Linked DNA regions of Homo sapiens. The protein of the gene in region 3 purifies or fractionates together with the protein of the main gene of each other region. This does not show direct contact. Each region holds a gene or a part of one and is shown on either strand. Other genes may lie near its edges.

Region 1 (3,500 bases), on a different chromosome or scaffold from region 3:
AAAAGCAAGGTATAGCATGTATATGGTATGTTGTTATAGTTACCATTTGTCTACAAAGGGGAAAAAAGAATATATAGATATGTAGTCACACAAAAAACTGCTAATAATTGCCACTGGCTAGCAGGAAGAACGGGGTAACTATTAAGCTGAGTAGGAGGAAACTTTTTCCACTATATACTTTTTTTTTTTTGAGACAGAGTCTTGCTCTGTCACCCAGGCTAGAGTACAGTGGCACAATCTCAGCTCACTGCAACCTCCACCTCCCAGGTTCAAGCAAATCTCCCGCCTCAGCCTCCCAAGTAACTGAGATTACAGGCACTAGCCACCACGCCCAGCTAATTTTTTGTATTTTTAGTAGAGACGGGGTTTCACCATGTTGCCCAGACTGGTCTCGAACTCCTGACCTCAGGTGATCCACTTGCCTCGGCCTCCCAAAGTGCTGGGATTACAGGTGTGAGCCACCATACCTGGCCTATACTTTTTGAACTTTGGAATTTTGAAGCTTATGAAAGTATGGACCTATTAAAAAAATTTTTTTATCTGGAATAAAAAAAACTACCCAAAATAATATTACTGATTTTTAAAAATCTATGTCTAAGGTAAACATATATGCTCAACTAATTTTTCTTTTCTACCTTCTAGGAATCATTATCTACTAAATGATGTAAAATGCAAAGGATACAATTTAGCAATATTTATCAAAAACCTATAGTATTTACTGTTGAACCCAGAAATATCGCTTCTGAGAATTTATCACGTAGGTGCACAACTTACCCACATATGAAGTATCTTACGTAGAACATTACTCATTGTAGCATTATTTAAAAGCACAAGAATGGAAAATATTTATGTGTCAATAGGGGACTGATCAAATATACTATATAGTATATCTACACAATAGAATACTCTAGCTATAAAAAAAGAGTCTCTAATAAAAAAAGATCTCTGGATATATTGTTAAAATTCAAAACCAGTACAGAAGAGTATAAACAGCAGACTGTGGAAAAGCAATGGGTGTCTGGGTGAAGGGCGAGTAGGTGGTAAATAGCTCTTCTCCAATAGGTTTTGGAACTGATTTTAGCACTATGTAAATGTATTACTCATTCAAAAAAATTTCTAATGTAAAGATTATTTACACAGTGAGAAATATTTTAAACTAAGAAACGGTACTCTGTTTAGGAGGAAAATAAGTGACCCAATGGGCTAAATAAAAGTAGCCTTGGCCTATTACCTAATTTGAGATGGGAAGATAACTGGTATTTCATTTAAAACAATTTGAAATTTTTATCTTACCTATATTTCATAATTTCCACTATATCCTCAGCGTCTTCTTTGGTTGCTTCCTCTCTCAATTCCAACCTTGCTCGTGCCTTTAAAAGAAAACACCATTTTCAGATGACGAAAGATGAATATATTTACCATAGTATGTCTAAGCTTTACTTCATTTACTTGTTTTACACAAAAACTGACCTTTAGGCGAGGAAGGTTATAACATCAAAAGTCAAAATATGGAAGTAATTCTCTGGGCTGGGGGTGGTGGCTCACGCCTATAAACCCAGCACTTTGGGAGGCTGAGGTGGGAGGATCACTTGAGCCCAGGAGTTCGAGACCAGCCTGAGCAACAAAGTGAGGACCTGTCTCTACAAAAAAATTTTCAAATTAGCTGGGTGCGGTGGTGTATGCCTGTAGTCCCAGCTACTTGGGAAGCTGAGGTGGGAGGATCCCTTGAGCCTGGGAGGAGAGGCTGCAATGAGGCTTGATCATGCCACTGAACTCCAGCCTAGGTGACAGAGGGAGACCCTGACTCAGGGCAAACAAACAAAAAAAATCTGTGAAACCTTGACTATGAAAATTACAACTCACTTAAAATAAGGATAAACCTCATTTTTACTTGTTAACGTATATTTCTGAGTGATCATTTCAGGAGATTTGATGATGAAATACACTTGGTTTTCCCTTGCCTTTTACTTTTAGGAAATCATACCTAACCAATATGGTAAAACAACAAAGAAGAATTAATCAGATTTTAGGAGCAAAAAGCCCAAACTCTGAGCTAGCTAATTTTTACTGCCAGAGTTCTCTTAGTATTTCAAACTGTGAATAGATATTACTGCTGTTAAAAACACAGGAACTATCCTTGTGGACCTGTCATGTAAAAAAATAAAATACTCAAGATACCTGACACATTCCATGTTCCCATATACTCAACTTGGGTCTCATACTCCTAGTTAACCTAACCACTTTTCAGATATTCCAGGAGTCTCCTAAGAGTCAGTCAAAGAAAAACAAAAGAAAAGTTGCATGCTAAGTAATTGATTCTGTGACTAGAAAGAAGTAGCTATACTTGGATATGTTATAGACATGACAAAATCTTTTAAAAAACTTTCATCCATCCATTTCTAACATCTCTCTATAGAAAGGAAAATGGAGTCAATTATGCAGAAAATACTTCAAAAGAGAAGTCAAGGCACACCCTTCCCCTTTAAGCCAAAAAAAGCATGACCATAAAAAGAAACAAACCTCTGTCAGACGAATCAAAGATTCCAGCTGCCTGGTAGTGATTGGTGAGCTATTTAACCTCTGGCTCTGTTTCCGGAGCTCAAGGTAAAAATCTTGAAGAACTCGAGCAGCTTCTGTGGATAGCCTTGGGTACACATACTGCCGAGCATAGCCAATGTACTTTCTCAATAGCTGGTGGGGAATGGGATCTATTGTTTCTCCAGGAACCACCTGAAGCATGATTAAAAGGCCCAAGATAACAAGGATAAGTAGCAAATAAAATATTTCTGCTAAAATAACTTGTTTAGGCCAGGTGCAGTGGCTCACGCCTGTAATCCCTGCGCTTTGGGAGGCCAAGGAGGACACATCACCTGAGGTCAGGAGTTCAAGACTAGCCTGGCCAACACAGCAAAACCCCATCTCTACCAAAAATACAAAAATTAGCCGGGCGTGGTGGCACGTGCCTGGAGTCCCAGCTACTTGGGAGACTGAGGCAGGAGAATCACTTGAACCCGGGAGACAGAGGTTGCAGTGAGCCAAGATCACACCACTGCACTCCAGCCTGAGCGATAAGAGTGAGACTATGTCTCAGAATAAATAAATAACTTGTTTAGATAAATATACAATTCTAAAAGACTCTCCAAATCAACCAAACACTTTATCTGTAGGTCTCATCTTAGCTGACTTAGATTCCTTTTTTTTTTTTTTTTTGAGACAGTCTCGCTCTGTCACTCAGGCTGGAGTGCAGTGGTGAGATCTCAGCTCACTGCAACCTCCGCCTCCCAGGTTCAAGCAATTCTCCTGCCTCAGCCTCCCAAGTAGCTGGGATTACAGACACGCACCACCATGCCCAGCTAATTTTTGTATTTTTAGTAGAGATGGGGTTTCATCATGTTGGCCAGGATGGTCTCGATCTCTTGACCTCATGATCCACCTGCCTCGGCCTCCCAAAGTGCTGGGATTACCGGCATAAGCCACCACGCCAGGCCGACTTGGATTAT
Region 2 (3,500 bases), on a different chromosome or scaffold from region 3:
CATTTTTAAATAAGAAATACAAATAGTCCGTCTTCAGTGTGGGTTAAATGTGCTTTTGTGGGTTACTTAGGAACCGCTTATTACATTGTTCTATGGCAAATTATATTCCAAGTTCTAAACAACTGTCTTTACAAAAGCCATTTTGACACATAAATTATAAGATGTGGACTGTCCAGAATTTTTCCTTGTCACTAATTTTTTAAAAGGGAATTTAGTTTTTGGTAAAAATGCCTTGTTTATCTTTCTCTTATTTATTTAATCAGTGTCTTCTTGTGCCACTTGCCACAAATAAAGATTCTCAAACATTTTCAGCCTCAGGGAATGAAGTAGCTGCTAGCTAGAAATAGATCAGGGATTAACAAATGTAATACATGTTGCTGATGTCATAGGGCTGTGACTTGGGAGGCAGACATCCCACTATAACTAAAAATGGGCATCAAGTGCACAGCATACAAATTTACAGATTCAAATTTTTACATTTGTTATTGCCAATGAATATGTCACATTATTTTGAGAACTAGCCCATCATTAATTAGTTTAAAAACAATATCTAAGTTATGTCACATCCATCCCTATCCTGCCACGCTCCATTTAGGACTACCTTGTCCCTCTACTGGACCATTGTACTAGAGCCCCTACCCTGCATCCTGTCCACAGTCCTTTCCTGTCCAACCCACTCACCAACCCAGTCCTCATCAGACTTCCCTTCACAATGGCTCCTCAAAAACTCAATGCCAAATCAATCATATTTTCTGATTTCCTTTCCCTCCCTCTTTCTCTCTTTTTTGTTTCTTTCGTGTTTAGAAAAAAAATCAAAACAAAATGAGTGAATACACAGAAAGTTTTTGCCTCAACCACTCACTATTCTCCAGAGTCATCCTCACTCTCTACCCTCACCCCCTCTGCAAATGCCTGTCTTTCTCCACCTAAAAATGTCCAGAGGTCTTGAAAGGTTCAGTTCAAAAGCTGCTTCACAGTGTTTGCTTCTGTGTTCATCTTTTCTATCCACATAGATGAATATACATCATCCCTATTTCCCCTGGGAACTTTATTCTTTTAGAACTTAACCATATTCTGCCTTGTGTTACATTATAGCTAGTAGATTGCAAGCCCCTTAAGAAGAGTTTGGTTTAATTTTGGATACTTCTTAGCACTTAGCAAAGGGGTCTCCTCATAGCAGGGGCATAAAAAGTGTTTATTGAACGGTTACTTCTCTTTAAGATAGAATAGTTTCAGTATACTTTGTTGGAAGTTGATGTTTGTGATATCTCCTTCTGTCATTCTACATTTTCTTTCATAGGAGTTCGTAGATTTTCAAGGTGCAAGAGCAGCCCCATTTTATTAACAGCTGTAATCTTGCATTTTATCTGAACCTCACAATCAGTGAATTGTACTGTCTCTCCTGGCAGCCTCGTGTGCAAGCTGAACACAAGGACCACCATCCTGGCAGCAACGAACCCCAAAGGCCAGTACGACCCCCAGGAGTCCGTGTCTGTGAACATTGCCCTCGGCAGCCCACTCTTAAGTCGATTTGACCTGATCCTGGTTTTGCTTGATACCAAGAATGAAGACTGGGATCGTATCATTTCCTCCTTTATCTTAGAAAATAAAGGTACGTGAAGACAAACAAAGCATTCAAAATAACAGAGAGATTAGCTGTAACTAAAAGAAATTCCCTTTCAAGAAAATTAAATAAATACCCAAGATAGGCTATGTAGTACCAGGCAATAGAGAAAAGCTTAGACAGAAAGCAGTGAGAGGAGCCACTTACGGGGCCTCAGAATACTGAGTTGAAGGAAAAGGGCCTTTCTCTACCTGCCACTAATGAGACTAAAGTTGTTATAAATATGTGCCTTATGATGAAAGGGGACAACCTTATGATACAGAATTAACGCTCACCTCTTGCATATAAAACCAGAATGAATTGTGAAACAAATCTCTAAATGTAGGCTTCTCTTTAAATCAGATTTACTCAGGCCGGGCGTGGTGGCTCACGCCTGTAATCCCAGCACTTTGGGAGGCTGAGACAGGTGGATCACCTGAGGTCAGGAGTTCAAGACCAGCCTAGCCAGCATGATGAAACCCCATCGCTACTAAAATTCAAAAATCAGCTGGGCGTGGTGGTGCACACCTGTAATCCCAGCTGCTGCAGAGGCTGAGGCAGGAGAATTGCTTGATCCCAGGAGGTAGAGGTTGCAGTGAACAGAGATCGTGCTACTGCGCTCCAGCCTGGGTGACAGAGTGAGACTCCATCTCAAAAAAAAAAAAATAGATGTATTTGAATATTATTGATTACTGGGCAGACCAGAATTATTCTGAATAATTTTTAATAAAGGCAGGAAGCTTACCTTTATTAAGCTTAGATCATAAGATGCTGATTGTATGCTATGCAGACAAGTCTAGATTTCAATAACCACAAAACATGAAGGTTATCTTTTAACAAATGAGTACCAGAACTTTATAAAAATCCTTAAAATGAGATGTTTGCCTGTCCTAAGAACTTACTGACCCAACACCTGATACATACAGGTTACCCAAGCAAATCAGAGAAGCTCTGGAGCATGGAAAAGATGAAAACCTATTTCTGCCTCATAAGGAATCTGCAGCCCACACTGTCTGATGTGGGCAATCAGGTTCTTCTCCGGTACTACCAGATGCAAAGGCAGAGTGATTGCCGGAACGCTGCCCGGACCACCATTCGGCTGTTGGAAAGCTTGATACGATTAGCAGAAGGTCTATTTCATTCAGCGAATGATGCTTGTATTGAATGCTGCGTGTGTGCAAGGCATGGGGCTTGGCACCATGGATTCAAAGTTGAATGAGAATAACTCCCACTCTAAGGTGCTCATAGTCACTTAAAAATAAAGGCTCTGAGCCAGAAGATCTCTGCTCCTCTGAGGACAGATTATGAGTATTGACTGGAATGTGGTGTCATTAAGAAAGAGGAATCTTTGTGCCATCTCGGGACCTCCTAGAACTTAATATACCATTCACTTAGAAAGCCTTACTTCTGATATTTTGTTTCTCAGTGGTAGCTCTGTTAGCATTTTGAGTAGGACAGTTTCTTGTTTGGAATTGTTTCCCATATAGCATCACTAGTTCTTGCTCATTAATTGCCAGTTGCAGTCCACCCCTGTCATTATAGCAACCAACTTGACAATGCCATGCCCTGCCCCATTACATATATACATATAGCTAACATGTATCTTAATTCTTTTCTTCTAACATTGGCTTTTACATTTTAGCTTTTGTTTAAATCTAAAAAAAGAATTCACATGAACTGAATAATAAAATAAAATAATACAAGCTTAATAAAAAATACTGTAAAACAAATGGACTTTCTTTTTTCAAGGATTTATAGCTAATATTAGGGCAAGAAATACTCAGAATTTAGAATTGCTTGTTTGGTAGCTTTGAAAAGCTCATAGATCATAAAGAGGAGTGCCAGAAATGAAAAATGAGTTTTAATTTTGTGTAGTTTTATAAAAGACTAGAAAATG
Region 3 (3,500 bases):
GGTTGCAGTGAGCCGAGATCACGACACTGCACTCCAGCCTGGGCAACAGAGCGAGAATCCGTCTCAAAAATAAAATAAAATAAAATAAAATAACATAAAATAACATAATAAAATAAAATAAAATAAAATCAGCTCCTGACTTTAACTGCATTGAAGCAGAAGGCTATCTACGCTTATTTTTTGTAACAGACTCAAAAAGTCTTAGGGGTAGGGATCCACCACATATATTTATAGGCTTCCAGAGTGGCTTAGCCATTTTGAAACCAGTCATATTCTATTTGGCATGCTTCTAGCTTTAACAATTAACCTTCTTACATTAATACATGCTTTGAATCCAGAGAGTATCTGCTGCTTTGGATCTGAAATGGACTGGCAGATCTGCGGAGCTACAGCAGAGAAAAAATACTGGGGAGAATTAAAAGCAAAACTGGGTTTGAGGGCAGAGCAGGTCAACCAGAACCCCAAGGAGAAGGGAAGCAGGGTCTCACCCACCAAAGGGAACCCAGCAAAGGCAAGAGAAGGCAGATCCTTCCCAGCTCAGTTCTCAGAAACCTGAGAGGAAGGGCTCCTGAGACACAATCTCATAATACTTATCACAGTCTCCTCCCCCAGGGGAAGCTGGAGCTAGCTGGGCCTTTATTTCTTAGATGGGAAAGAAGGCTGGACCCATGGCATCAGATAATACCTACCTGGCACCAGGACAGGCCTCACTTAATGCCAGTAAAATTGCTGCCTCCCCCAACTACCTGCCTCAAATGCCTTTTAGTGTGTGACACCAGCAAACAGGCCTAGCAGCATCAGCTCTTGATTCTTAACTCCTGAAACACACAGGGACGCCCCTCACTCTCAAATCACACCCAGAAAGTTAACATTTGCATAAGTTACCTCTGTCTGGAATTTAGCCAGAGCACCATGGGTTGGAGTTTGGGGCGCGGAAACCATGATGTCCTCCAGACTTCTCCCACTCTGCTAAGAGGGGAGGGAAGGAGAAGATGAGAGCAAGCTTAGCAGCTGTTATTTACAAGTACAGCTTATTGTCTGGTTTACATAATGAGTTCAGGAAATGATCAGGGACTATTAACACATATTACATCTCTCCTAACAAAGTCTCAGGAGCCTCTTTGGCAGCTCAAAAAAGATACTTTGGGGATTGGTTTGAAAACGTGAGGAAGCCGGAGCTCGCCCAGGTGCAAAAACCAGGGCTGCCTGAAGGGGGCAGTGACCCAAATAGAGAGGCCTGGCTGGGCGTGGCGGCTCACACCTGTAATCCCAGCACTTTGGGAGGCTGAGGCGGGTGGATCACCTGAGGTCAGGAGTTCGAGACCAGCCTGGCCAACATGGAGAAACCCCCATCTCTACCAAAAATACAAAAATTAGCCAGGCGTGGTGGCCCATGCCTGTAATGCCAGCTACTTGGAAGGCTGAGGCAGGAGAATCACTTGAAGCTGGGAGGTGGAGGTTGCAGTGAGCCGAGATTGTGCCACTGCACTCCTGCCTGGACGAGAGAGCAAGACTCTGTCTTAAAAAAAAAAAAAAAGAAAGAAAGAAAGAAAAATTGAGAGGCCTGTGATGAGCAAAGGGGCAGCTTTCCCCAAGTCCTAACCCTTTCCTCCAGGGAGATCCAGCCCAGGAGGAACATAGACGGCCTCTTTGGATATCTGCTAACATGCTAGGGAAGAGCAAGTAACAGGCAGAAATTGTTTCAAACACCCTTAAAATGGGAGGAAGAGGGCACACCTATCACAACCAGTCCAGATCCTCAGAGTCCAATTATCTGGGATCTGATCCAAGACTAGTTTAATCCAAGTCTCACCAGGGCTGTCTCCTTTTCAGCCCCAGCTTCCCCACACCTGCCACAATGAACTGTTCTGTGGATCTGAGAGCACCTTGCTCTTCTGCCTCTGTGCCCTTACACATGCTCTTCCCTGCTTTCCCACTGCCAGAACATCCACAGAGCACAGCGCCCGCTCCGCCACACACCTGTTAACCTCCTACTCATCCATCCAAAGCCCACTCAGCAAGCCTAAGGCAGAGCCAGTGTCTTCCCAGCACCCAGGGAATGACCCCTGTTCACACTGTGTGCTTTGTGCATGTTTGTTTGTTTACATCTGTTTCTTCCATTTCACTGTAAGTTCTTTAGGACAGGAACTGTTTCTTTTAATCTCTGTATTCTCAGTTCCAAGCAAATTGTCCAACACATAAGACCTTAACAAATGCACAAGAATGACTTCCTGCCCTAGTGCACACCTGTAGTCCCAGCTATATGGGAGGCTAAGGCGGGAGAATGGCTTGAGCCTAGTTCATGACCAGCCTGAGCAACATAGCCAATCTCTAATTCTTAAAAAAAGGAAAAGAGGGTCTTCTTAAAAAAAGGAAAAGAGGGTCAGGCGTGGTGGCTCACGCCTATAATCCCAGCACTTTGGGAGGCCGAGGCGGGCAGATCACTTGAGGTCAGGAGTTCGAGACCAGCCTGGCCAATATGGTGAAACTCTGTCTCTACCAAAAACACAAAAATTAGCCAGGCATGGTGGCGGGGGCCTGTAGTCCCAGCTACTCAAGAGGCTGAGGCAGGAGAATCGCTTAAACCCAGGAGGCAGAGGTTTCAGTGAGCTGAGATTGCGCCACTGCACTCCAGCCTGGATGTTGCAGCAAGACTCCATCTCAAAAAAAAAAAAGGAGAAGAAAAAAGAAAATTATGATGTCCTCAGAGCCTTAAGCACTTCTTCACAGTGGATTTTCTAGCATTCAGTTCTTCCCTTTTATTTCTCCTGCAGCTTTGAAAAGCCTCTCTGCACTTCCTTCCTTCCTTCTCTGCAAGAGGGAAGATATGCTAGGGCTGGACAGTGCTGGAACCCTGCTTCTCTCCCTTGCCCACCAAATCCTAGAAAGCCAGCTCACTCACCTGGTGAGGCAGGATCCCAGCTGGGCCAGGGAAACGGCGAGTTTTGGCTCGGGTGGAGGGATGGGTGGGCTGCTGGGGTGTCCGGCTGGCAGCAGTGACTAGCTGCACCAGGTGGTTGGTGACTATGGGTGTCTGCAGAGCTCCCTGGGGACCTTTTGGGGTACCAACAGGAGACCCAATGGAAGACACTGGAGCTTGCGGTTGTAAGGGTATCCGAGGAAATAATCCAGAGCTAGTCCTTGAGGGAGTAGAACAGCTTGAGTTGGGAGTTCGAGGTCTGGGTAAATGAGCTTTGCCACTTAACCAGGAACTTGGAGACTGGAATGGCTGACAAGGGAAACGATTTTGAGGGCTGCTCTGAATGGTCCCTCTAGCAGCTTGGAGAGGCTGAAGTGCTTGAACAGGGGAGCGTTGCGGACAGACTTCCCAGTGGAGTTGCTGAGTGGGAACTGTTAAGGCAGTTGGAACAGGAAGGTGACCCACAGCACCAGGTCTCAAGGGGGGTCGTGGAGTCCTACATTGGATGACAGGATCTAGAGACTCATCCTGGGCGGACATGATACCCGCTTTGTGGATGGCAGGCACAGGCCCCTTCTGG

Evidence for each region. Proteins that work in one complex are often made in the same cells at the same time.
Region 1: the proteins of HROB (region 3) and MCM8 purify together in Homo sapiens (affinity purification with western blotting; one study listed by BioGRID). This does not show direct contact.
Region 2: the proteins of HROB (region 3) and MCM9 purify together in Homo sapiens (affinity purification with western blotting, with the first as the bait; one study listed by BioGRID). This does not show direct contact.

Annotation. Positions count from the first base shown.
Region 1 is NC_000020.11:5,985,152-5,988,651, reverse strand, and holds part of MCM8 (DNA helicase MCM8), read right to left. Parts: intron 2,731-3,500; coding exon 2,521-2,730; intron 1,371-2,520; coding exon 1,294-1,370; intron 1-1,293. UniProt on the Homo sapiens protein: Component of the MCM8-MCM9 complex, a complex involved in the repair of double-stranded DNA breaks (DBSs) and DNA interstrand cross-links (ICLs) by homologous recombination (HR).
Region 2 is NC_000006.12:118,827,160-118,830,659, reverse strand, and holds part of MCM9 (DNA helicase MCM9), read left to right. Parts: intron 1-1,409; coding exon 1,410-1,612; intron 1,613-2,529; coding exon 2,530-2,733; intron 2,734-3,500. UniProt on the Homo sapiens protein: Component of the MCM8-MCM9 complex, a complex involved in the repair of double-stranded DNA breaks (DBSs) and DNA interstrand cross-links (ICLs) by homologous recombination (HR).
Region 3 is NC_000017.11:44,148,430-44,151,929, reverse strand, and holds part of HROB (homologous recombination OB-fold protein), read right to left. Parts: coding exon 2,903-3,500; intron 970-2,902; coding exon 886-969; intron 880-885; exon of another isoform or gene 316-879; intron 1-315. UniProt on the Homo sapiens protein: DNA-binding protein involved in homologous recombination that acts by recruiting the MCM8-MCM9 helicase complex to sites of DNA damage to promote DNA repair synthesis.